Homo sapiens: one gene and its partners. The gene in region 5 interacts genetically with the main gene of each other region. Each region holds a gene or a part of one and is shown on either strand. Other genes may lie near its edges. The genes, in order: CA4, MARK2, PRDX1, SYNGR3, NF1, CCDC144A and CTSK.

Region 1 (4,271 bases), about 29 Mb from region 5:
CAGAGGGCATTTGCACCATGACAGTTCCTTGCCATAATCATCCCATGTCCCCACCCGCAGAGGTCTTGAAGGAGGAAGGGGTTTTGAAGATTGGGCTGGCCTCTTCTCTGACTGGAGGGCCCGGGGGCAGCCATTCCAGGAGAAGCCTCCCTTCAGCCAGCATCCCCAAGAGCCAGCTGCAAAGGGTGGAGCCCCCTGTAACTCGCCTCACAGCCTCCCTGGGGCCCATCTGGTCCAGGCTTAGCTTTTCTTAGGAATTTGGTCTTCCCTGGCTCTGGCCGCAGCTCCTAGGTTTGTAGTGGTGACCTGTGATCCACTGTCTTAATCATGGAGACTTTTGACCTGCTTGGCTGAACGCACTTGTAACTACCTTCTTCAGGAAGCAGCAGCCAGGAAAACATAATGGTGGTGAGGTCAAGGCCAGGGGTCAGGTCCATGTCGGTGGATGAGGGTGGGGTGCTGGTGGCAGGAGCACCCACCACTCAGGTTCCTGTCTTCGTTGAATGAGAGGGCCACCCTTGCAGGTAAGTACCAGCCCACTGACTCAGGCCACTCCCAAGAGGGCTTGGGAAGGAGAGGGGCTACCTACCCAGAGGTCTCGGTGTCCAGCGCCACATCCTACCTAGTCCATCCACCCTGACCAGAGGTTAGAGACCGAAAGTCAGTCGCCTGTCACCCAGCTACTGCCCCCCACACTGACTGACCTGCCACCCCTCCCCCTTATTTCAAGATGGCTGAAGAAGCCTCTCTAATGGACCTTGCTCACCCCACCTCCCCCTCTGAGGGACAGGGGATAATCCTGAAAAACAGCTCAGCACAACCCAAGTGTTTCCTGGGCAAAGTCTCAGTCGCTCCCGGCCAGGGGTCTGGGGCTCTGAAGGGGACCAAATATCCTCACCCGGCCTCTTGTCTCAATGGACAGAGATGCTCTGGGGGTCGCCATATGCAACCTGGTCCCTTCTCAGCTTGAGTCCTCCATAAGATGAATGGAAGGCAGGTCCCAGTCAGAAAGCCTTGGCACTAAAGGGGATAGCAGCTTGTGTGAGGGGTGAGCTGAGACACATTCCTGACACTGGCCCCAGGCTTGGGGGAGAGCCCCATAAACTTGGTATATGACACACCAGCCACGTGCCACACAGGCACCGCACTAATCACTTAAACCCATTATCTTATTCAAACGCTTAAAACCCCTGAAGTCAGAATGACAACACCTGTTTTGCAAATGGGACAGGAAGTGACTTACCCAAGACCACACAGCTACAAAGCACCAGAACTGCAAAGCATTTCTCTTTCTACTTTCTAGCTGCTTAGTAGGTTTCCAATGTCCAACCCTACAAATAAAAGTTTCCACATTCTGCTTTTTCTCTTTCTTCTCCCAGGGGCCCGGTGGAGAGGCTGCAAGGTGCCCCTCGACCCTCTAAGACAGCTCAGCCAGTCCCTGCTGCAAAGGGCACACGCTGGCTCCTCTCTGTGCAGAGGACACCTTCACCCCTCACTCCGCCGCTTTGAGGATGGAGCACCTAACTTGGGAGAGGAGGTTTCAGCCTGCGTGGACCCCAAGAACCATCCGAGGGGTGGTTGGGCTGAGAACTGGCAGAGGGGGTCTTCCGGTGATGGGGTCTGGGGTTGCAAAGAAGGTGCCTCCAGGATCGGATCCCTGTGCCCAGCCGCTTGAAGCGCCTTTAGCTTCTTATCAAATATTAACATGCCTTTCCTGCCACCTCCCACCTAGAGGAATAATTAAGAGCTCGGCTTCACCATTAATCTTTAAACGAAAATCACCCTGTCCGGAAAGACCGGCTCCGCAGAGGCCTTGGGGCTCCGGGTCCCCCACCCCCCGCCCCCGCCAGGCTCCCAATTCAGCGCTGGAGGTTAGGGAGGCCAGGGGAGCTTGCGACCCTCAGGGGCAAGGAACCCGTGTGGGAAGCGCGGCTTCCAGGACCCTGCCAGACCGCCCTTGCTCTGGCCGCGGGGCAGTCACCCAGCGCTGAGTCCCAGCGGGACGGACGGAAACCCACGGGCAGACGGAGGAGGCTGGGTGAGAAAAGAAGGCGTGCGTTGAGGCGGGTCCGAGAAGCATCCTTTTTTTTTTTTTTTTTTTTTTTTTTTTTTTTTTTTAAACGGAGCACCAGGCTGGAGTGCAGTGGCGTGATCTCACTGCAACCTCCACCTCCTGGGTTCAAGCGATTCTCGGGCCTCAGCCTCCCGAGTAGCTGGGATTACAGGCGTGTGCCACCACGTCCGGCTAATGTTTGTATTTTTGGTAGAGATGGGATTTCACCATGTTGGCCATGCTGGTCTCGAACTCCTGGGCTCAGGTGATCCACCCGCCTCTGCCTCCCAACGTGCTGGCATTTCAGGCTGGAGCACCCGCGCCCGGCCTGAGACGCATCCTTATCAGGGACTCCCAACTCGTCTCGCCGGGCCACGCGCACACACCCTCACCGCGCACACCCGTGCACACGCTCCCCCAGCCGGTGCTGACACGCGTGTGCACACACAAGCTCGCGCGCTGCCCAGTCCTCCCGCACCCTCGCGGCCCCCGGCGCACACGCAACCCGGGACCCCAGCGCCACCGACGCTCACCGGTCGCCCGCGGGGGGATCCTCTGCAGGGGCGGGAGCTGGGGGCACGGAGGGGACCGCCGAGGGGCACCTGGGGCCGGAGCCCGGGAGCTCACCTGCACTGGCCGATGGCCGCGCCGCGGAGAGGGCCAGGAGCGCCAGCAGCATCCGCATCTTGCGGGACAGCAAAGAGTCCTCTGAGCCGGGGGTCGCGCACCGAGGAGGCCGCCGCGGGTGCAGCGATCCTGCCGGCCTGGGTTTTATAGCGGAGCCGCGACGGGAGGGAGCCCCGACAGCTGGACGCGGGAGGCGGCTCCTCCCCCTGGCGGGGCCTGCCCTCCCCTCTCCACCTTCCCCTGTCCCTCATCTGAAATCCTCCGCTCTCCCCGGTCCCCCGCCCTGCCTGGCCACCTCTTGCCCTGTGCGCAAGGCCCCCTCACCCACTCCGCGTCCTCTCCACTCAGCAGCGGCGCCCTGCCCCTCCCCCATCCTACTCCTGGTCCCTGGTTTGGGAACAGGGACACGACACCACAAAGTGCTTGACCCACACAAAGATGAGTGCCCCATGATGACTTTGATCATTCTGGCGCCACCCCTGCGCAGTGGTCTTGAATGGGACCTTGGAATGGCCTTGGGGTGGGGGTGGGGGTGGGGGTGGAGATGGCCTCGAAGAGATGAGAGGCTGAGGGGCGTGTGATGCCGTTTGTTGAATCAGTGGCCGCAGAAAGGCTCTCCTATCTCTCTTTGGCAGTGGCCATTGATTCTCTGGGTCTCATCTCTTCTATTTCCTCCCAGGCTGCTCCAAACTTAATTTCTAAGCAGACCAAAGACCTTTCTTCGAATACAGAGCAAAGCTGTCCCTAAACTACTGCCCTTGCTGGTGTTTATGTGATGACCAGGGAGGGTTGATGGGGCAGAATTAAGAAATGGATTGTAAGAGGATTCGGTGAGGGAGAAGCTGATGGGGTCAAAGGGGAGGAGCTAGGTTCTTTGAGCCCCCCAGGTGGAGAGATGAGATGGGAAGAGAAGAGACTGGGGTCTGAATGGACCCCTGGTTCTCCCATCTGGCAAGACCTCCAGAGGAGTCCAGGGGAAGTTCCCTTAAGGGCGGCTCCAACATTTGGGGAAATGGGGTCCCCCCCATGCCCCCAAGCTGCCTCTTGTCTCCTCTCTTAGCTGTGCCCTCCTGCTACTGCAGGTCCTCTGTGTCCCACATGGGGTGGGGGCTTCTGTGGGAGTTTGGGAAGCTCAGGCTGGGGTGCGGGAGAGGGACGGGGAACCAGGCAGTGGACCTGGACCTCCTCCATCAATCCATCAACAGGAAGCCCCCTTTTTCTGGTTTAGCCACTCCCCATCCGCTGCCAACCTCTCAGTCCCTACCGACCTTCGAACCTGGGCTAGGGACTTCTGAAGGGGGATTGCCTCCCCCAGAAGGATTCAGGCAAAGATGCTTCCTCCTTGCTTAGGGTTGAGGCTGACTCCCCGCTCCTGGCCCAGGATCACACAGCCTCACAGAGCAGCTTTGATCCTACAGAGAGGCAGGAGGGAGGTGAGGGGGTGTCCATGCCAGGCTTAGGGCTCTATTGTCAACACCACTGTATAATGTAATCACCAGCCTGCGACCATGACAGCCACAGGAGGGATTCCACACCCAGAGCCTATTCTGGGGAGTGCATTTGTGTTCACAGGGCTATAAAAATGTCCCTT
Region 2 (3,500 bases), on a different chromosome or scaffold from region 5:
ACCCACCCCGAGTAAAGCAGGAAGGCCTGGCCTGAGCCTCTCTGCCACCCAAAGCTCCTTGCTTACCTGCGTACAAACTTGGAGGTGAACTTGCTGAAGATGCTCCCAGAGGCCCCCCGCCGGCCCTGGCTGTGGCCAGAGGGAGAGGCTGGGGTCACACCGTAGGGCAAATTCTGCTGGTCCCGCACCTGTCGGAGCTGCCCAGCATGGAAGGTGCTTCGGCTGGACACACCCCGGGGGAAGTTAGTTCGGTCTGGGGCTCCACCACTGCTGCTGATGTTGTGGGCGGATGGGGAGGCAACAGGGACACGCTGGGGGGCTGTGCTGTGGGAAGAGAAGTGGGGTTGAGGGGGACGAATTAGGGTACAGGACAGCCATCACTGGGCACCTGGACACCCTGTGGTGGGGACAGGGAGGGGGATGCTAGGGCAGAGGCAGCCATCACGAGGACACAGAAGGAAGGGTGTGACTACTGAGGACAGTGGTGAGAAGGAAGTCTCGTGGAAGTGGAAGGAGATGGTTTGGGAAGGGAGGGAGGGAGGCAAGGAAGGACCCCTGTGTGGAGTGTGGTTTAGGCTGGAGACAGCGGGCTCCCTGGGAGCCGGGCAGACTGGACCCTCAAGGCGGCAATGGGGACCAACCCTTGAGGATTGAGTCCCTGTGATGCCGACTATCCCCGGGGTCCCTAAGGAAACCCTGGAAGGTTCAGAACAAAAAGGTTTCCCTTTGGAGCCTTAGGACAGCTTCCTGCATACCTGTTCTGAGAGGGAGAACTGGAAAAGAGGGGCATTAATGCTCTTTTTTGTTCCCTCCACTTCCTGGCCGCAGGGGACAGACCCATTTCTTGTGGCTAAGATGACAAGAACACAGCAGGACCCCCAAGTGGGAAGAAGAAATTGTTGGGGCAAGGGGGTAGGGTGGGCTGAGGGCAGCAGGTGCACCAGCTGCCCCAGCACACTTGCCTGGGCCGCGGCACCTCACAGTTACTCTCCGTGGGGGGCAGCCCAGAGGCCTTGTTGGGGTGCACGGAGGCCGACATGGATTTCTGGTGCTGGCGGGGCCGGGCCGCAGAGACTGCGGCAGAAGCAGAAGCCGTGGAGGCCCGGGACCCTGGCATGGTTAGGCTAGGAAACAAAAGCAGCGGAGAGGCCCGTGTTAGGGGTGAGTGAGGGCGGGAGGCCTGGATTAGGAAGCAAGGGCAGGGGAAGGGCCAGAGCTGGGGAGCTCTGGCAGGGTAGAAGTCAGGCCTGGGCAGCAGCGGGATGCAAGTCAGAACTGAGGAATGCGGGGCTGAGAAGTGGAGGTGAGTGAGGTCGGGAAGCAGCGAGGTGGGTCAGTGCCTGGGAAGAGGAATCAGAAATGAAGGAGAGCAGACAAGGGGCCGCTGCCTCCAGGCTGCACTGGCCTCCTAAGAATTTTAAGAACAGGAGAGTTTCTTCTACAGAAAGAGTGGGGTGTTGCTGAGGGGAAACTTTCATAAACTCAGAAGAGATAGAGCCAGGAATGCAACACCAAGAAATGCGGCCGGTGAAGGCTGGGGAGCTCTGGTCTCATGGGGATGGCTGGAGTCGCCCTCTATGTGTACACCCCTCAAGGTGGGCATCTCTTGGTTCTGCCCTGAGCTGGGACCCCCAACACAAGGCCTTAGCTGCTCATGTCTAGAGGAGGGCAGCTGCCATGCCCTGGCCGTGGTCAAGAAGCGAGCATGTAGCTGAGATGGCCACGGTCAGCCCCACACTTGGCAAACTGCAAGTAGCAGTCAGAGGAAGATGGGGAGGAGGCAATGGCGTGGAATAGGGGAGGGGAAAGCTGGACTGGACACAGCCAGGATGGAACTCCAGGGAGCAGGGAGCAATGCGCTGGCAGGGACAGGAGACGGTGCTGCTGACAGACATCACCCTGTGAGACATGGCTCCTAGGGAGTGAGGCAGGCAGGGCCCGGGTCTCTCACCTGTCTTTGCCATTCTGGATGGAGGCCTGGCCGAGGCTGGCCCGCTCCAAAAGTGGGGAATTCCTGCTTCGATTTGTGCTGGTGGAGAGGACGCTGTTCTGTGGGGAATAAAGGGCAAGCGTTCTATCAGAAAGCCAAAGTGGTCTACAGCCAGGTTCTCCCCCCAGGTTCATGGAACAGGCTTCCTGTCCCTTCCACCTGAAGCAGACAGTGGTAGGTTAAGGAAAGGATTCTGCATTTACTGCTGGGAGCGAGGCTTCCTGCTATAAGCAGAAGTAGTAGCCAAAGGGAACAGAGTCTGAATTAAGAGAAGAGCTGCCTGGAGAGGGCAGGCCCCACCGCAGGAAGGAAGGAGAGAGCGGGGGGTGCGGCTCACCGTGGAGGGGGTTGGGGTGGTCTTCTTCCTCTCCAGACCGGGCAGGGGGCTGGCAGGCACCTTGGCTGTGCTGCTGGCTTTCCGCCCTGACTCCCGGTCCTCCTCAGGCCGCTTATTTTCTGCGTTGTTACTCTGAGTCTTCTTAGAGTAAGAATTAGAGGTGGGAATGGCAGGACCAGCTGCTGGGCCAGAGGGAGGATGGGAATGGGTAAGGCCAAGGGGTCCACTGAGTGCCAGCCCCACGCATGCTCATTTCCTACAGGGCTGGCCAACAACCCAGCAAGCCCCCATTCCACAGAGGCGAGGGAAGGGAAGTGGCTTGCCCATAGCCACACTACTAATAAGTGGCTGAACCAGGACTGAAACTTAGTTGTGTTACCCAAGTCCCCACAGAACCTGTAACCTCTCTGGAGAGGGGTGAGTCCCCACCTACAACTCCCAAAAGCATTTACCCTGGTCGCTGAAGCGCCGCTGCTTGGGATTGGCCGACACGCTGCGCTGTACCTTGTGGGATGGGGATGGGGCGCTGCTATTGGTCAGATCAGCTGAAGGCCGGGGTTTCAGGGTGATGGTGTCGCCTTCCAGCTGAAAGAAACAGAAAACAGCTTCAAGGGAGGGCAGAAGTCATGTGGAGATCCCTATGGATGGACACATTTACACATACCGCCCTCTCCCAACACTCAAACACCCCAGGATCATACCGGACATCCACTTGTAAGACCAATACATCCCCCCTGGAGGAGACCCTGGAGACACACATGCTCTGACACAGACACTGACAAACACAGTCTCAGAAAGGAATACATAAGCCCACACACCCAGAGACACAAACATCCGCAAGAACACATGTCCAGACTCAAGTCCACTCCCCTCAACACAGAGCAATATGGGCCTATACCAAGTGTCACCAGGTGCCTCTTAAGGATCCCACCACCAGAGGGAGAGCAGGGCAGGGAGGCTGGGAGTTCATGTGGGGATACTCAGATGATGAACAAAACCCAAATGGGCAGAAGAACAATCACAAAGTCTCCAGATCCACAGACGGGAAGACGGACACATACACACACACACACACACACACACACACACAGATACACACACCCAAACATAAAGCACTAGACAGAAGCAACAGACTCAATAGCCGGGTATGGTGGCACATGCCTGTAATCCCAG
Region 3 (3,500 bases), on a different chromosome or scaffold from region 5:
GTCAGGAGATCAAGAACATCCTGACTAACACGGTGAAACACCGTCTCTACTGAAAATACAAAAAATTAGCCAGGTATGGTGGCAGGCGCCTGTAGTCCCAGCTACTCAGGAGGCTGAGGCAGGAGAATGGCGTGAAACTGGGAGGCAGAGCTTGAAGTGAGCGGAGATCACACCACTGCACTCCAGCCTGGGCGACAAAGCAAGACTCCATCTCAAAAAAAAAAAAAAAAAAAAAAAAGTTCACATGCCAAATAGACCAAGAGATTTACCATGCTAGATGACAGAAGTGAGAATCCACAGAAGCACCAATCACTTGGCAGTTGAGTTTCTTAAATTCTTCTGCCCTATCACTGAAAGCAATGATCTCCGTGGGGCACACAAAGGTGAAGTCAAGAGGGTAAAAGAAGAACACAACATATTTTCCTGGGGGGAAAATCGGAGTCATGGTTAGCATTTGACACAGACTTCCTTGCTTTATATTTTCCTATACAAAAAGAAGCAAGTTGATGGCTGACACAATAACCACTAACTGCCAAGATGCTCAATACAGATGTCTCCTAGAAGCTACTTTTAGAACCTGGTGCATTAGGAATACCTGAATGAAAAAAACTTCCAATCCCATACTTTATTCTCCTGCCTCCATGTCATAGCTACCAATACAGAGTAAACACTGTTCAGTCTAATTTTGATCTTTTCTGAGTGGCTAAAATTAACATAAACACCAAGTTCTCCAAAGATAGCAAAAGCAAGGATGCACTTATAAGCATGGCCTAATGCCAATGCTTAACAATACCCAGAGAAAGCTGAATTGCAGTACTCCTCTGCTGTAGAGATAAGACACCAATAAGAAGTCACAGCCTTTGCACTTCTCCCGTGATGAACCATAGTAATGGAACAAGCATGGTTTAAGTGATCACATGTGTTCCTAACGTGCCTGACAGGACAGGAAAAATTTTAAGCCAGGCACAGTGGTGCGTGTCTGTAGTCCCAGCTACTTGGGAGGCTGAGGTGGGAGGATCCCTTGACCCCAGGAGTTTGAGGCCAGCCTGGGCAACACAGCAAGACTGTCTCAAAACAACAGAAATATATATATACATATACACAGAGAGAGAGAGAGAAAGAGGGAGACAGAGAGAGACAGAAAAGACAAAAGTACTAGTGAGTAACAGAACTTCTAGCTGCAATTTTAATGAAGTCACTGGGATTAACCACTGAAATAACAGATCTTCAAACTGGCCAGGCAGCCTTCTCGCCACACCCACCAGGCTTAAATACTAGAACAATTCCAAATATTCACTCATTTCCAGGTAGCAGCAATGTTTGAAAAGTCAAACAGGCTGGGTGTGGTGGCATGGTGGCTGACGTCTGTAATCCCAGCAGTTTGGGAGGCAGTTTGGGAGGCCGAGGCGGGTGGATCACCTGAGGTCAGGAGTTCAAGACCAGGCTGACCAACATGGTAAAACATGTCTCTACTAAAAATACAAAAATTAGCTGGGTGTGACAGCGGGGGCCTGAAATCTCAGCTACTGGGGAGGCTGAGCCAGGAGAATCACTTGAACCGGGGAGATGGAGGTCGCAGTGACCTGAGATCATGCCACTGCACTACAGCCTGTGCGACAAGATCAAAATTCCACCTCAAAAAAAAAAAAAAAAAGCCAAACAAGCAGCCCTTTTTGACATTTACCACTTTGCAGTATCACTGGAAACTAACTCATCTAAACAACCCTTCCAGCTTTGCCTAACAAGCACTTTGGGGCCTCAGCAGGTCAAGCTCTGGAGGGCAGAGAACAGCTCCTCCTAGACCTCCTGCTTATACCCCTGGGCCCAGGTCACCTCCCTATGGTGCAACTTACCTTGTTTGCTGGGAGAAGCCCCAAGAACAAAGTGTGATTATGTCAGGAAACCTAGTCAAATGTTCTACCAAAAACTAACTCCAGGGACTAATGCTACACCACTGAGAAAAGGACACTTGACACCTGAGTTTCAGGTTAGCATTCTAAGGAATCTATATCCTCAACTGTCCCAGGAGATCGAGCTGCTCTGGAACTACAAGGTAAAGAAAGGAGGAGCCTCAACAGAACTTGCCAAGTGTCTGCATGAAACTATGACAACAGAGGCCGGGCGCAGTGGCTCACGCCTGTAATCCCAGAACTTTGGGAGGCCAAGGCAGGCGGATCACAAGGTCAGGAGATCGAGACCATCCTGGCAAACATGGTGAAACCCCGTCTCTACTAAAAATACAAAAAAATTAGCCAAGCATGGTTGCGGGCGCCTGTAGTCCCAGCTACTCAAGAGGCTGAGGCCTGAGAATGGCATGAACCCAGAAGGCGGAGCTTGCAGTGAGCTGAGATCGCACCACTGCACTCTAGCCTGGGCGACAAAGCGAGACTCCGTCTCAAAAAAAAAAAAAAAAAAAAAAACTATGACAACAGAAAGGAGAGTTGTTCCATCTGTAATATCAACTCTCCTCCGGGGTCAAAACAGGCAAGGGAAAGTGCCTAGCCCTCAGCCTAATATTAACAGCTGTGATATATACGTGACCCAAACAAACTGAACGAGCAGTGTCACAGCTCCAGAGATTTGAGTGAGCTCTGAGACTTTAAATGTAGAATGTCTCTTATAACAAGAGATAATGAGTATTTCTCCAATAATAAAATAGAGGAGGGCCAGAGGCAGTGGCTCACACCTGTTATCCCAGCACTTTGAAAGGCTAGGGCAGGCAGAGGGCTTGAGCCCAGGAGTTGGAGACCAGCCTGGGCAACATGGCGCCCAGCTCTACAAAAAGTACAAAAATTAAGCCAGGCGTGGTGGCTCATGCCTGTAATCCCAGCATTTTGGGACGCCGAGGTGGGCGGATCATCTGAGGTCAGGAGTTCGAGACCAGCCTGACCACCATGGAGAAACCCCGTCTCTACTAAAAATACAAAAAAAAATTAGCCAGGCATGATGGCGCATGCCTGTAATCCCAGCTACTCGGGAGGCTGAGGCAGGAGAATTGCTTGAACCTGGGCAGTGGAGGTTGTGGTGAGCCGAGATCACGCCATTGCACTCTAGCCTGGGCAACAAGAGCAAAACTCCATCTCAAAAAAAAAAAAAAAAAAAAAAAGTACAAAAATTAGCCAGGCATGGCAGCATGCCCCTACAGTCCCAGCTACTTGGGAGGCTGAGGTAGGAGGACCACCTGAGCCCAGAGAGGTAGAGGCTGCAGTGAGCCATGACTGCGCCACTGCACTCCAGCCTGGGTGACAGAATGAGACCCTGTCTCAAAAATAAAAATAAAGAAAGAAAATAGACGAGGAATACTGAAAAGATAATTGAGCTAGTATGTCCAGACATAATGAAGCATGTGGTTTCTCCAGAAGTGGTTTGGTCCTAGGATATATACCCTGTAATCACTTGATAATCACCACTTCAACATGAAGGTAACAACCTAAATACTTCTTCCTAGGAGACAAAACATTTTACAGTCAAACAACATTGACACAAATCTAACAAGCCAC
Region 4 (4,275 bases), on a different chromosome or scaffold from region 5:
TTGCAGTGAGCCAAGATTGCGCCACTGCACTCCAGCCTGGGTAACAGAGTGCGACTGTAACTCAAAAAATAAATAAATAACTAAAGAAATAAATGAGTCGACAGCAGCATCAGACTTGCCCTTGGGATTGGCACGGAGAGGTCAGTGGCAACCTTGAGTTTAGGTGGCGGTGGGAGCTGATTCTGCCGGGTCAGAGGGAGAGAGAGGAGGGTGTTGCAGGCAGAGTTTGCTGCTAAAGGAAGCAGTAACGTAAGGCAGCTGGAGGGGAGGTGGGGTCAACAGTGTTTGGCTTTTAGGAGAAAGTGCAGCATGTCTGGGTGCTGATGTTAGTGATGAAGTAGAGAATGAATGACACAGAGGGGAGGTCTGTGGCCAACAGGTGAGAGGGGTTGTGATCGGACGCACAGTGTGATGGACTTGGAACACAGTGAGTAGCGCCTCTGGCAACACCTGCTCTGCCCACCTGTGCCCAGCAAGGCTGAAGAATGAGCTCCAGGGGGGCTGGGCCACGCAGCACCATCTGTGCACCCGGCTCGTGTAGCAGGGACCTGGGTTGCTTATTATCTGAAGTACAGGGTGGTAACAGTCTCCGCCACTACACAGGTCAAGCGCTTGGCGCTGTAAATGTCAGTGCAGACATCTCAGTGCTCTAGACAGAAACCTAGGAGTCATCTGAACTTCCAGCCTGCTAGGAACATGAGGAGAGGGACCTTGTTGCACCCAAGGCTGGGGTCTGTGGAGGGGACTCAGCGGGACACAGGGCAGCCAGGCACCACCCCCACCCGACTCCTAGTCTCTGATGCCGCTCCCTGCCCTCCATTCCAGACTAGGCGCCGCAAGTACGCTGGGGAGACCCAGGAGTAGGGAGGGCATTGGGAGCACCACCACCTGGCCACGGGCAAGGAGCGGAGACACCGAAACCAACACTCCCAGCGGCGCTGGCCACGGTGGCTCTGTCCCCTCCCTCAACAGGTGCTCCTGGGGCCAACGCCTTTCTTCCCACCAGATCCTCCCCGCCAGAGGCTAGAAGCTGTGATAGCAGCTAGAGCACAGTGGGGGGCCATGAGAAAGACCCCAGTTATCCATCTGGTCTTCTTGGGACCAGGGCCAGGGAGCCGGTCCCCTCTCCCGTGGGTTGGGGGAAGATGCTGCAGCCCGTGGACCTCCTACCCCTTTACTCCCTCACCCAAGTGCCCTTCCCAGAGGAGCGGACTCCTCCTGTCTGTCCTCCCGGCTCTAGCAAAGTCTGCGCCCAGCACCCGAGCCCCACCCTGCCCCCGGGGACCTGGCTGGTGGGTTCCTGAGGATGGTCTCCATCTCGGGACCGGGGCAGGCAGGTGAGGGTGGGGGATGGGAGGTGGGCGCGGCGGAGGGAGAGGAGGGACCCGGCCCCGCGCGCATGGACCCAGTGGGGGGCGCGGGCGCGGCCCCGCCCCGTCCCGCGCGTCCCCGCCGCGGCCGGCGCGCGCTCCCGGGAGGCGGCAGCGGCTGCAGCGTTGGTAGCATCAGCATCAGCATCAGCGGCAGCGGCAGCGGCCTCGGGCGGGGCCGGCCGGACGGACAGGCGGACAGAAGGCGCCAGGGGCGCGCGTCCCGCCCGGGCCGGCCATGGAGGGCGCCTCCTTCGGCGCGGGCCGCGCAGGGGCCGCCCTGGACCCCGTGAGCTTTGCGCGGCGGCCCCAGACCCTGCTCCGGGTCGCGTCCTGGGTGAGTGGTCCCTGCCCGGGCCCCCGCTCCCGCCCCTGCCTCGCGACCTTCAGGCCCCTACCAGCCCCCTGCCCCCTACCCCCTGCCCCCTGCTTCTCGCCCCCCGACCTCACTCACTCTCATCCTCGCCGGCCCCTCCCCCGCCGGCCTCAGGTTGGGGTGACGTCACCGGGCAGGGCGCGCCCACCTGCGGGCGGAGGAGGGGCCGGCGGCGCCGGAGAGGGACCTTGAGAGGTCACCGCCGGTCGCCTCTACCCCTACCTCCTCCCCGGGTCTAATTTCAGTCCCTTTCCGCAGCCCTTACTCCGTTTTTCCTGTTCTCGTGACCTGGAAGCAGGGACGGGGTGGGGACGGAATTCTCCGAGGGGCAGGAGGGGGCTACGGGAACCGAGAAGCGCCTCCCCTTCCCCCGCACACACACCCTCGGGTCTCCTTGGCAGGGAGCCTGTCCCCTGGCCCCCAGTTCCAGCTGTGAGTTGAGGGAGGAGAGGCTCTGGGCTGGGAGGGCTTCCTGGCGGCGGTGTGGAAGGCAGGTTTGGGAGCAGCCTAGCCCACTGGGGCGTCCCTGGGAGGGCCCTGCTGCTCCTTCCCTCCGGCAGGGGAGGTGGCAGTTGGGTGCCGAGCTCTGGGTTTTGTCCAGGTGGCAACCTCTGGGCCAGCCGCACCTCGGCGCCTGTCTTGGAGGAGGGCGGTGCCCACGGTGGGGCAGGGGCTTTGGCCTCCCCTGCGGAGTGGCTCTGACCAGACCGGGAGGCAGGACGCTGCGTTTTGGTCCGAGCGCACGTCCCGACTTGTGGCCCACTCTTGGGGACAAGTGCATGTCCCGGCTTCCCCCTTGGCTCCACTCTCGGAGCTGGAGCGGGAAAGGAGCGAAGGGATGAGGTTGAGGCTGGAGGTCGTTTCTTGGAAACACAGGGCTGCCCCGTGCAGCGCTGGTTAAAATGACTGCGGTCCCCCTCATGCCTGTCTCCCGGAACTGGTGGGCAGGAGGCATTGAGGTTTGACGGAACCTCAGAGGTCAACGGTGTCATCTTTTCAGCCCAAACACTTACAGGTGATATTAATAATCAGTCACGTGGGGGCTGTCATCCCTCGGGTACCCACCACGTGCAGGAAGCTGGGTGGACATGTCTGTCCCAGCACTGCATGAGCTGTGCCCGTCACCCTATTTGCATGCTAGAAAACAGGCCAGACAGTTCCCAACCGCGCAGGAAGCAACAGCTCCGCTGCCTCCATACCCTCCCTCCCGCCCCGCTCTGCCTGCTGCACTCTCACCTCCCCTTCGCCGTTCCGGCTCCAGCCTGGGAATCGCGGGCCCAGGTGAAGGCTCCTGTTCCCACACTCTTGAGTGGGCTCTGAGGGGACTCCACGGGCCCACGCGGTGCAGAGTACCTGGCTTGAATCAACCCCGGCTTTTGTCAGCCATGTGATCCCGGACAAGTCACTTCACCTGTTGGGGTCCCAATGTCCCCCGCATTTATAAAGAGAATAAGAACAATGGCGATCCCACGGGGACTTTCTGAGGATTTGGTGAGGGGACGCATGTAAAGTGGCTGTTTAACACAATGTCTGGGCATAGTAGATGCTCACTAAACGGCCCGTGTTGTCAATAATTACTAAATACGCGAGGGTTCGGGAAAGAAAGAGGTGACACCGCCCCCCACCCAGATACGGGCCTGGGAACGCAGGGACAGGCCCAGGGGCGTGGGCGCTCGAGGCGGGCTCGCAGAGGTCGGGTCGCCGCAGGGCCCTGAGCGCCGCGCCGCACGCAGGTGTTCTCCATCGCCGTCTTCGGGCCCATCGTCAACGAGGGCTACGTGAACACCGACAGCGGCCCCGAGCTGCGCTGCGTGTTCAACGGGAACGCGGGCGCCTGCCGCTTCGGCGTCGCGCTGGGCCTCGGAGCCTTCCTCGCCTGCGCCGCCTTCCTGCTGCTCGATGTGCGCTTCCAGCAAATCAGCAGCGTCCGCGACCGCCGGCGCGCGGTGTTGCTGGACCTGGGCTTCTCAGGTGGGCGGGGCCGGGGCGGTGAGCGCGGAGAGCCTTCCGGGTGGGCGGGGAGGGGGCGGGGCCTGGGCGGGGAACACCGCTGGAGTTTCCAGCTGGGCGTGGCCGTGACGAGGGGCGGGGACTGAGGCAGGGAGTGTCAATGGGCCTCCCGGGTGGGCGGGGAGGGGGCGGAGCCTGGACGGGGAGCGCCGCGGGACTTTCTAGGTAGGCGGGGCCCGGGTCTGGGCGGAGCCTGGGCGCGGAACGGGTCTGGCGCTCCCGGGTGGGCGGGGTCAGCGCAGGAGAGGGAGGCGGGACCTCGCGCCACGCGGCGAGCCCAGGCGAGGCGCCCCAAGCCTCGGGCCCACCGACCTTTCCTCCTCCGGGCGAGGCCGCCGTGGGCCACCGCGTGGAGCGTCGCCCTGACGCGCCGCACTGTTCGCAGGACTCTGGTCCTTCCTGTGGTTCGTGGGCTTCTGCTTCCTCACCAATCAGTGGCAGCGCACGGCGCCAGGGCCGGCCACGACGCAGGCGGGGGACGCGGCGCGGGCCGCCATCGCCTTCAGCTTCTTCTCCATC
Region 5 (3,500 bases):
ACCACTTTAGAACTGGATGGTAATACCATGCCATTATCGAATCTTTTTCATTTTATTAATACAAAAACATGATTTCCAGATATCTTAAATATAAAAATGGGATAAGGTCAGACCATCCTAAAACAGTGGCCACTTCATTTTACTCCTTTTAAATATAATCTTCATTTGGCACCCAAACTCTTATGACGATCAAGTATACTTCTCCCAGCTTTAATTTCTCCATAGTAATAATCACTAACATACTACGTATTTTGTTTACTTCATTATCCATTCACTCCCCAACCTCCACACCCACCCCAGAAAGTAAGCTCCATGAAGGCAGTGAGTTTTATGGGCTTTGTTAGTACTCTATCTCTAGCGCCTAAAACAGTACTTGGCAATAGCAGATAATTAATAGTTATAAGATAAAATAATTAAGAATATATACCTATCTTTCCTTTAGCACTGATGAGACCAAAAACTTACAAGCGCTTGAGAACATACTATCCATACTTACTCTTCTTCTAATATGACTACTTCAAACAACTAAACTTTAAGAGGTTCTACTTTAACTATAGTTTTTTCTTTATAACTTATTCTCAATTCATCTTATTTTCTAAACTCTTTGAAAGAAAGTAACATTCAACACTGATACCCAAAATGAATGCACTCATTTTCTATACAGTAATTACCTTATTAAGAAGTGGCTGTAATTTGGTTAGTGCTATTACTGTAGCTTCTATCAGAACTTGACTGTTGTAAGTGTCAGGTCCTTTTAAGCAACTCTCAAGTGCCTTTTAGGAAAACAGAATTTTTTATTTTACTTTCATTGAAATAAAACATTAACTCCTAAACTGAATCTCGGAATGAATTCAGGAACATTTACTTATTTAATAAATGCTAGAATGATTTCTCATGCTATGGTGATCTTGGTAGCTAGCTTAATGTACATTTGTTTTCTTATTTTTTGACATTTCTACATTATAAGAGTCAGACATTATTATAGTAATTACAAATTAAATAATTTTATGCAAGGCTATAGTCTTACCATATAATTAAATGCTTTGAAAACTGGTAAAATACTAAGTGTACCTGCTTAGCAAAAGAGGCAACATATTTTATTTTAAAGACATCTTCCTTAATGAAGTAATCAGAGTTTACATATAAAGACAGCTTCTTTAGAGAAGACTTCTTCAAAGAATTACAATAAATAATCAAAATACATTTTAAAGGCTTAATAAGTAACATATAAGATATTTCATTGACCTCAAATTTAAACGTCTTTTAGAAAAATGAAAGATATGCTTTACAACTTGAGAACCATAAATATTTGGGAGAAGTGAGGGCGGAACAGGTACCTTGCTAAGAATACGGATTATCTGCTTTATCTGCCCATGAGACACTCGTTTGCTAATACACCCAAAGACAACAAGAGCTCTTGGTTGCAGGGATGGATTATATTGGAATGCAAATCTGCAATTAAAAGATCCACAGAACTTATAAAAACCTTTGTGTTTATATATACTAAATAATAAATTATAACATTGATCATACAGTAATAGCTGTATTTTCAACAATATGCATATTTTTACAACTTATATTTAATTTAGGACATACCTTTGAGCTAGTTCTGTCCACTGGTCCAGCCACTTGCACGTTGGAATATCTCTCATGCATGCCTAAAAAAGGGGATACTCTGAATACATATTGTACATAAATGTTTTTAGAACTGTTTAAATAATGTTTATTATGATGTCATTAAGTGACCTGTTACCAATAACACAGTCCATGCAAGTGTTTTTATTTAAGCATTAAGTACAAAATAGCACAATAAACCAATATTTCTTCTATATAGTATTAACATATTTTTAAAAAAAGATTTTAACTTAGTTTCTTATCATTTTGGCTTCTATACCTCCATGATCTCCAACAAAGCTTCTGTGACTGTTTCCAAGGATGTCAAAGCAAAAGTCTCTCTCTCATAGGAGCCAGGAGAGAATGACCTGTCCCGGTAACTGGAACGGAAGGCAATGACAGCAGCTGACTTGACTTTGCTAATGCCAAACAGCAAGTAAAATTTGGGTAATGAGAACTCTGTCAGACTGAGTCTCAAAACTTGCTTGGTCTCTTCTGTAAGAGAATAAAGGAACAAGTAAAGACAGAAAATATTACTTTTTAATTTCTAAAGTTCCATGTTTCATTTTGAATTTAGAAAATTTGAATACCATATAAAAATTACATAATCATGTTCCCTAAATCAAACCTCTAGATACATTGTATTAATGCTCCTTGCTTCATTTATCTACAAATTAGTGCTGGTAACTGAACATGGTCAACTGGCACTGAGTATTCCGCTTATGGGATAACTCTACATGACAAGTATGCATAGAAAATCTTTACTATAGCTTGATATGGAATGGAAGTAATTTATTTTCTTTTTGGTAATATTTCATGTCATTACTGGAGGCTTAAATTAGCAACTTGGTGTTAGAGCACAAACATAAATAAGATAATCTATATTGATCAGGTGAAGTAAAATGGAGAAAGGAACTGGTAAACACAAATTCCTTTCCTAGAACTTACCACTAAAATGAAGCTGTGAACAAGTACACAGAGAGTGAATGATATTAATGACCAGTCCATGTGTGGAAGCTCTAAGGGAGAGCGGACCTGTGGCTACTAAGAAAGTAACAACGTGGAAGAGGTAGGGAAGATGAGCTGCCACATCAAGGGAATTGTTGAAGGACAGCATCAGCATGTAGCGTGCTAAAATAGCAATATCATCCCACATAAGATGTTGTTCTAAAGTAGGAGTTGGAGATAAGCATGTCTTGTCAATTATTTTGCACATCCTTCCAATAACCTGTAAAGAAGCAGGATTTTTTTTTTTAAAAAAAAAAACATGGGACTCAAAGTTTTAGCACAAAAAAGTTCAGTTTAATTTAAAAGTAATTACAAAACAAAAAACCTCCTGATGATAAAACAGATATGCTATAGTACAGAAGGCAAAAGAAAAGTGATTACCTTGCTTGAAACCAATTTCACATTTCCAGAAGCCAAAGCTACAGCAGTATCTGCCATCACCTCAGCTTTTATTGATCCCAAGCCACCTGTTGCACTGGTTTTGATGAAACTGTCTAGTACAACATCAAGCAGATCTGTAATCTAGTTGAAGAAGGAAAATAACATGTTTTTAATCACTCTACCAATTTAATTTTTAATTAAAAAATATTCATTGGAACAGCCTAATCAATATGAAAATTCTATTTTACCTGAGGCCTCAAAAATACTAGATTTTATTTACAGGCCTGTCAGTAAATACAATTTATTATAAAATATCCAGTAAAGGATGAGTATATTCATTTGACTCCTTCAGAGATTAAGAGATTGGTATTCAAAAATTTTAAATCTCTATCAATACTATCTTCAGTCACTTGCAAAGTATCTCTATGCTTTTCTAAGACAGTAATGTAGCATCAATATAAAATAGTAATTTGAAAATACAGAGCTGGGTGCAGTGG
Region 6 (3,500 bases), about 15 Mb from region 5:
CTTGTGTTATGGAGCTGAATTTGTAGGCTGTTAATTTTACTTTCAGCATTAGAAAGTTTTTCAGAAAGAATCTCATTCTTAGCTTGTAGGCCAGACATATCAACCTTCATTTTGTCATGTAAACGAACCCACTCTTGTCTTGTTCTCTGGAAATCAAGTTTTAGGTCTCTTGCTGTCTGACTTTGATCACAGTCACGTACAGCAGCAGCTAGTCTACAACGGTATGATTCCATTTCTATTTCTAGTCTTTCTTGGTTCTGTTTCCCATTCTCCAGTTCAGAATTGAGTATTTTGTTCTCAGCTGTCAGATTGTTCAGCTGTCCACTGTACTGGAGTATTGTTTCTGTTAATGTTTCCTCATTTAGTTTTATAATTTTTTGAAGGTTATCATTCTTTTCTTTCACAGCCTCAATGTCCTCAAAATATTTCTTTTCCTTTTGCTTGTTCTGATTTTTTATTGTATCTATTTCCAGTCTCAGCAAGGCAATTTCTTCCTGCAACATGCAATCTTCATGAAAGAGATCCTTTTCTTTCTGATGCCTATGAGAAATCTAAGTAAGAAAGGAAACATTCAGTAGCACTCAATAAAATGACAGATTATGATTTTCTCTGAAATTAAATAATGTATACAATGAAAAGATTGCCATAAGTGGATATCCAACTGGAAAAAAATATTCTATCGAAACTTCAAACCTCATAGAGCATAAATTCCCAAAACTTCATAAGTTTATTTGAAGACAATGAATCCATGAATGTAGAACATAAATAACTAGAGAATTTTTAAGCATCTCAGAATTGGAAAAGACGGTCTCCAAATTACAACAAACTCAAAGGCATTAAAGATTAATAAATTTGACTACATTAAAAAATTGGCTTTACACTCTGACATCTAACCTATACACCACCCTATAGTAAAAGCTGTAGCTTTGCATATATCTGGACAGAGGAAATGTTCCAACGTTCTTTAAGTTCTTTTTTTCCTGAGAATATTCTATAGCTATTTATTTTTCTAACATTTTTCTCATCAGTTATATAAGAATTACATTTATTCATAAATGCTAAATCTAAGCATTATATTAGGCTTTTTTTTTTTTTTTTTCGAGATAGGGTCTCCACTCCATCACTCAGGTTAGAGGGCAGTGACGCAATCAAGACTCACTGTAGCCTTGGCCTCCCGGGCTCAGGTGATCCTCCCACTTCAGCCTCCTGGGTAGCTGAACTAGAGGCACACACCCCCACACGCAGCTAAATGTATTTGTACTTTTTGTAGAGATGGGGTTTCGCCATGCTGCCCAGGCTGGTCTGGAACTCCTGGGCTCAAGTGATCCACCCACCTCGGCCTCCCAAAGTGTTGGGATTACAGGCGTGAGCCACTGCACCTGGCCTTGTACCAAGCACTTGTACATGTATCACTGAACTCATTTATACACAATTCTGAAAGGAGAGGTCAAAAAATATGCAAGTTGCAGGATTTTCCCTAGGTCCCCTTACTTTACTTCTAGTGCTCTTCCACCAAACCACAATTACTTCTGTGTTGTGTATATATAAATATAAAAGAGGCTTATTTCAAAACACCAGTGGTAAAAAAAGAAGTTACAGAGCTTTTCTTAGAAAATCATGAGATTATCTGTTATTACAATAACTTAAGTTTCCTCTTTATAATGTCTGAAACAGAAATAAGCATGAAACAGGGTGAAATACACTGAACTATTTTTCTTTTCTTTTTTTTTTTTTTTTGAGACGGAGTCTCGCACTGTTACCCAGGCTGGAGGGCAGTGGCCCAATTTTGGCTGACTGCAAGCTCCGCCACCCAGGGTTCACGCCATTCTCCTGCCTCAGCCTCCCGAGTAGCTGGGACTACAGGTTCCCGCCACCACGCCTGGCTAATTTTTTTTGTATTTTTAGTAGAGATGGGGTTTCACCGCGTTAGCCAGGATGGTCTTGATCTCCTGACCTCGTGATCCACCCGCCTCAGTCTCCCACACACTGAACTATTTTTCTAAGAAAAAACACTTACCAATAAATTATCACCAAGTTTATATTATGGCATATCATTGTTTTCAAAGCTCTTTGCACTGAAATGAGACGCTACTTGGAGCAAACTGTTACTCTCCTCAAAAGTAAGGGAAACGGCATCTGAAGTACGGCCTCTGAACTGGCTATACATTTCATCCTTACTACAAGTGGAAATAATAATCTAACCTCTCCATTAATATATTAGGAAGATGAAATAATGTCTGAAAACTAGAACGTCTGTTGTTAGTAGCAAGGATTTTGAGATTGTGGAAAGATCATTAATTCTATGAAAAATAACAAATGTTTCTCCTTTGGATAAGGCCACTGTGAATGTCACTACTTGACTCTTGCAAACAAATGGAGTTGAATTAAGAACATGACTTTATTCAATGAGCCAAAAATGCCAGAACCACCATCACCACCCCCAAATGTGTGTGTGTGTGTGTGTGTGTGTGTGTGTAGTTCAAAAATCCATTGTACTTTCCAAGTTGCACAGAGTTGTTTTTTAAAAATATATTCACATACAAAAATATATTTGAAAATGACTAAAGAAAATACCTCAGAATTCATTTTCTTTCGAGCCATTTCTAGTTCCTTTTGTTTACTCGTCAGAATCTGATCTTGTAATATTCTGGCATCCTGTTCTTCAGAAAGTTGCTTCTGGGCATCGTTTCTCTCCTGCACAACCTAGAGATAACATGGAGGTTTTGGTCTAATAGCACTGAAAAAGAAAATCTAAAAGGTTAAGAGCAGAGCCTCTCTTATAAAACGGTTAAAAAGAAGTAGCCTGTTAAAACACAAGAACTTTTATCCCTCAAGAATCACTCAAATCTTAATTGCATACATGACAGCTAAATCTGTCAAAGAGGAAAAACAGTTCTTAACTACGAGAAGATACAGCATTGTGAAATAAAATTTCTTTCAAAACATTTAACTAGTGTCCTTATAGTTTCAAAGCTATTTAGCCTGTATTTTAACATAAAAAATGTGTAAATGAACAGCTATATTAGTGATTAAACTCAACTTATCCTCCACTCTAAAAACACAGACTGAGCATCTATTAGATGACAAGGTTTACAGTAAATAATTTTATCTATAAATGTCATAGTTCATTCTTAAGAGGAAATAACAGTTTTGGTTTATTTTAAACCTAAATGATATACATGAAGGCAAAAAATTATAAGTAATACCGATGAAACATAAAGTTAGAAAAATGAAGTTTACACCAAAGATTAATTTACCAGATCCAAGTTATTTCTTACTGTCCTCAATTCCTTAACAAGTCTTCTCAGATTCCATTTAAGTTGTTGCTTTGTTTCAACCACTTTCCCACACTCCTCTTCTTTTATTCTTAACTGTTCACTATCTTTATTATACAACATATCGGCATTTCTTTTCTCCTCATTTTCTTGTTTTAAGGCAAGTCTGCAGTTAAACATGGATTACATTAAAATGTGTTTTGTTAAAAAATAAAAAAGTTTATT
Region 7 (3,500 bases), on a different chromosome or scaffold from region 5:
GTTAGGTCACAAATAATCCTTTCCCCCCCCCCAAATTTTTTTTTTTTTTTTGAGACAGCGTCTCTGTCACCCAGGCTGGAGTCCAGTGGCGCAATCATGGCTCACTGCAGCCTCAACGTCTCAGGCTCAAGTGATTCTCCAACCTCAGCCTCCCTAGTAGCTGGGATTAGAAGCACATGCCACCACACCCAGCTAATTTTAAAAAATTTTTTGTAGAGACAGAGTTTTGCCATGCTACCCAGGCTGGTCTCAAATTCCTGGGCTCAAGCAATCTGCCCGCTTCGGCCTCCCAAAGTGCTAGGATTACAGACATGAGCCACCATGCCCAGCCCAAAAAAGTTTTTGCAATCTTACATTCTTACTAGCATGAGAATGTCAGTTTTTTCACAACCCAAACAACACAGGATTGTATCAGCAAGATAAACAATTGATTTAACGTTCATTTAACAAACACTTTTTGACCCCCAGAACCTACCAGATGCAGTGTTAGGCAGCAGAGACTCAAGATGACTAAGACACAACCTGTGTCCTCAGGAAATCTCAATCTAAAAAAATAGAACAGGAAAGAAAGAAAAATCTACAATCTAGCTGCACAAACAATAATAGCTAATACTTTTTGAGATTTTATTGTTTGTCAGGAACTTCTTAACTCTTTACATGAGTTAAATATTTAATCCTTATAACAATATTTTATGCATAGAGAAACTGAGACACAGGCAAATTTAGTAACTTACCCGGGGTCACATAGCTACTGGGTGGCAAAGTCAGGGTTAGCACCCAGGACAAATGCCTCCACAGCTGGTACTGTGCTCTGCTTTACTGTAGCTAATAGTAAAAATGGTAGCAAAAATCAATAGCAGTAGAACAGTGCAACAGATATTAAGCGGAAGAGGAAGACTCACAACAATGACAACATTTGTGCTGAAATTTTTAGAACACATGGAATTTCTTCAGGCAGGTAGAGAGAAGATATAGAAAATGTAAACAGCAAAGATTGATAGTTTCTCTGTATGCCTTTCAGGGTCAGTGTGGTTCCTGTTGGGCTTTTAGCTCTGTGGGTGCCCTGGAGGGCCAACTCAAGAAGAAAACTGGCAAACTCTTAAATCTGAGTCCCCAGAACCTAGTGGATTGTGTGTCTGAGAATGATGGCTGTGGAGGGGGCTACATGACCAATGCCTTCCAATATGTGCAGAAGAACCGGGGTATTGACTCTGAAGATGCCTACCCATATGTGGGACAGGTGAGATTGCTCCACACAATTATACAGCTCTGTTGGCTCCTCCTTCCCCAGCATGATGTTTTGTACTGGAAACAATTCCAGAAATACTGTTTTCTGTTATCCTATCCTGCTTTCTTGATGGAATAATTTCCCACAGAAGGCCAAGAAGATTTCCACAATCTGGGGGAATTTAGGGAGCTTAAGCTACTATAGCTCCTATTTGCATCTCTGCCATGGAGAGAAAACAGAGGCTAGGCTACCTACCCCATAGACTTCCGAGCTGGGTTCTATAACCCTCTGCTCAATTCCTCACTCCCACAACAAACCCACAAACCCACCATGCTATTTTCACAAATTGTGTGGCTTTATTTTATATGATCTCAGTGTGAGTTTTCAGAACATTTCAGCAAATTATGTAAGTTTACATGCTAACATCTATAAAATGAGAGAAAAAACAAGTTGCTTCATATAAGAGATAAGGGATTAACTCAGTTCCTCCTGCATGATCCTCTAGTCATAGGAAGGAAATCATATCTGAAAGGGAGGCAACCTGAGGGGTTTTTTATACACATAGGGCTGGGTCTGATAGACAATATAATGTAGGGCCTTCACAACAGAAACCTCTGAAACAGGGACAGCAAGTTTGAGAATAAAAATGATGGCTACTGTGTTCTAAGCCGTGTCCTTAGTGCATTTTTTCTTTTTCTTTTTTTCATTTAATCTCATAACAACTCTGTTAGGTAGACTTATCTTGAATGTATAGGTGAGGAAATGGACACTTAAGGAGATAAGACAGTATAATTCATACCACTAGTATGTAACAATGTAAGATGTATCTACCAGGGATGTTTATCTTCTGCAAACATTCCTAGGTATATCTCCCATGCACATGTGCAAGAATTTCTTACTAGGATATAATGCCTTGGAACTGAATTGTCTGGGTCTTAGGGTATGTCTGTCTTCAACTTTACTACACAATGTCAAATTGTTTGCCAAAATATTTGGAAAAATTTATACCTGCAATGTGTAAGAAATCCCCTTCAATCACCTTTTTATCAGTATGTTTATCTGGCCATTTGCATTTCTTCTTCAGTGAATTAACTGTTTTTATCTCTTGCTCATTTGTTTTTCTTTTTATTTTTTTGAAATAGGGTCTTACTCTGTTGCCCAGGCTGGAGTGTGGTGATATAGTCATAGCTCACTGCAGCCTCCACTTCCTGGGCTCAAGCAATCCTCTCGCCTCAGCCTCCCAAATAGCTAGGATATAGGTGCATGCCATCATGCCCACCAATTTCAAAAAACCTTTGAAATTTTTTTTTGTAGAGGCTAGGCATGGTGGCTCATGCCTGTAATCCCAGCACTTTGGGAGGCTGAGGTGGGAGGATCACTTAAGCCCAGGAGTTCCAGATCAGCCTGGTACAACATAGCAAGACCTCATCTCTACAGAAAAAATTTTTAAAAGTAGCCAGGTATGATGGCGTGCATAGTTCTAGCTACTCAGGAGGCTGGTTGGGAGGACAACTTGAGCCTGGGAGTTCAAGGCTGCTGTGAGCTGTGATCATGTCACTGCTCTCTAGCCTGGGTGACAGAGTGAGACCCTGTCCCCAAAAACAACAACCGTTTTTTTTGGTAGAGACATTGTCTCGCTATGTTGCCAAGGCTAGTCTCAAACTCCTAGGCTCAAGCAATCCTCCCACCTCCCAAAGTGCTGGGATTATAGATGTAAGCCACCATGCCTGGCCTACCCTTTTTTTTTTTTTTTTGAAATGGAGTTTTGCTTTTGTCACCTAGGCTTGAGTGCAGTGGCGCGATCTTGGCTCACTGCAACCTCCACCTCCTGGATTCAAGCAATTCTCCTGCCTCAGCCTCCTGAGTAGCTGGGATTATAGGCACCCGCAACCACGCCCGGCTAGTTTTTGTATTTTTAGTACAGACAGGGTTTCACCATGTTGGCCAGGCTGGTCTTGAACCCCTGACCTCAGGTGGTCCGCCCGCCTCGGCCTCCCAAAGTGCTGGGATTACAGGTGTGAGCCACCATGCCCCACCCCTTACTCATTTTTAATTGGATTGTTTTTTCTCTTTCTTAGCGATTCTTAAAAGTTTAAAGAGAATATTTGGATACAATACTATGTATTTAAAAGTTGAGGTTTGTCTTTTCATTCTTTTTATGATGTCTTTCAATCTAGAAAAGTTAATTTTAATAGGCCTGGCGCGGTGGCTCACGCTTGTAATCCCAGCACTTTGGGAGGCTGAGATGGGTGGATCACAAGGTCAGGAGATC

What was found.
Region 1: changes in NF1 (region 5) and CA4 together harm fitness more than expected from each alone (negative genetic interaction), as found in Homo sapiens cells (one large-scale study listed by BioGRID).
Region 2: changes in NF1 (region 5) and MARK2 together harm fitness more than expected from each alone (negative genetic interaction), as found in Homo sapiens cells (one large-scale study listed by BioGRID).
Region 3: changes in NF1 (region 5) and PRDX1 together harm fitness more than expected from each alone (negative genetic interaction), as found in Homo sapiens cells (one large-scale study listed by BioGRID).
Region 4: changes in NF1 (region 5) and SYNGR3 together harm fitness more than expected from each alone (negative genetic interaction), as found in Homo sapiens cells (one large-scale study listed by BioGRID).
Region 6: changes in NF1 (region 5) and CCDC144A together harm fitness more than expected from each alone (negative genetic interaction), as found in Homo sapiens cells (one large-scale study listed by BioGRID).
Region 7: changes in NF1 (region 5) and CTSK together harm fitness more than expected from each alone (negative genetic interaction), as found in Homo sapiens cells (one large-scale study listed by BioGRID).

Annotation. Positions count from the first base shown.
Region 1 is NC_000017.11:60,148,502-60,152,772, reverse strand, and holds the start of CA4 (carbonic anhydrase 4 preproprotein), read right to left. Parts: upstream 2,801-4,271; 5' UTR 2,739-2,800; coding exon 2,681-2,738; intron 2,009-2,680; exon of another isoform or gene 1,244-2,008; intron 1-1,243. UniProt on the Homo sapiens protein: Catalyzes the reversible hydration of carbon dioxide into bicarbonate and protons and thus is essential to maintaining intracellular and extracellular pH. May stimulate the sodium/bicarbonate transporter activity of SLC4A4 that acts in pH homeostasis.
Region 2 is NC_000011.10:63,901,610-63,905,109, reverse strand, and holds part of MARK2 (serine/threonine-protein kinase MARK2), read right to left. Parts: intron 2,913-3,500; coding exon 2,780-2,912; intron 2,510-2,779; coding exon 2,328-2,509; intron 2,050-2,327; coding exon 1,952-2,049; intron 1,125-1,951; coding exon 963-1,124; intron 325-962; coding exon 67-324; intron 1-66. UniProt on the Homo sapiens protein: Serine/threonine-protein kinase. Involved in cell polarity and microtubule dynamics regulation. Phosphorylates CRTC2/TORC2, DCX, HDAC7, KIF13B, MAP2, MAP4 and RAB11FIP2. Phosphorylates the microtubule-associated protein MAPT/TAU.
Region 3 is NC_000001.11:45,515,385-45,518,884, forward strand, and holds part of PRDX1 (peroxiredoxin-1), read right to left. Parts: intron 424-3,500; coding exon 270-423; intron 1-269. UniProt on the Homo sapiens protein: Thiol-specific peroxidase that catalyzes the reduction of hydrogen peroxide and organic hydroperoxides to water and alcohols, respectively.
Region 4 is NC_000016.10:1,988,495-1,992,769, forward strand, and holds the start of SYNGR3 (synaptogyrin-3), read left to right. Parts: upstream 1-1,475; 5' UTR 1,476-1,608; coding exon 1,609-1,707; intron 1,708-3,479; coding exon 3,480-3,717; intron 3,718-4,141; coding exon 4,142-4,275. UniProt on the Homo sapiens protein: May play a role in regulated exocytosis. May indirectly regulate the activity of the plasma membrane dopamine transporter SLC6A3 and thereby regulate dopamine transport back from the synaptic cleft into the presynaptic terminal.
Region 5 is NC_000017.11:31,335,977-31,339,476, reverse strand, and holds part of NF1 (neurofibromin), read right to left. Parts: intron 3,145-3,500; coding exon 3,004-3,144; intron 2,843-3,003; coding exon 2,563-2,842; intron 2,110-2,562; coding exon 1,895-2,109; intron 1,659-1,894; coding exon 1,597-1,658; intron 1,453-1,596; coding exon 1,338-1,452; intron 774-1,337; coding exon 672-773; intron 1-671. UniProt on the Homo sapiens protein: Stimulates the GTPase activity of Ras. NF1 shows greater affinity for Ras GAP, but lower specific activity. May be a regulator of Ras activity.
Region 6 is NC_000017.11:16,731,741-16,735,240, reverse strand, and holds part of CCDC144A (coiled-coil domain-containing protein 144A), read right to left. Parts: intron 3,442-3,500; coding exon 3,258-3,441; intron 2,704-3,257; coding exon 2,575-2,703; intron 552-2,574; coding exon 1-551. UniProt on the Homo sapiens protein: May play a role in preventing the formation of kidney stones through inhibition of calcium oxalate monohydrate (COM) crystallization, attenuating COM-induced apoptotic injury to renal epithelial cells.
Region 7 is NC_000001.11:150,801,761-150,805,260, reverse strand, and holds part of CTSK (cathepsin K preproprotein), read left to right. Parts: intron 1-1,021; coding exon 1,022-1,240; intron 1,241-3,500. UniProt on the Homo sapiens protein: Thiol protease involved in osteoclastic bone resorption and may participate partially in the disorder of bone remodeling. Displays potent endoprotease activity against fibrinogen at acid pH. May play an important role in extracellular matrix degradation.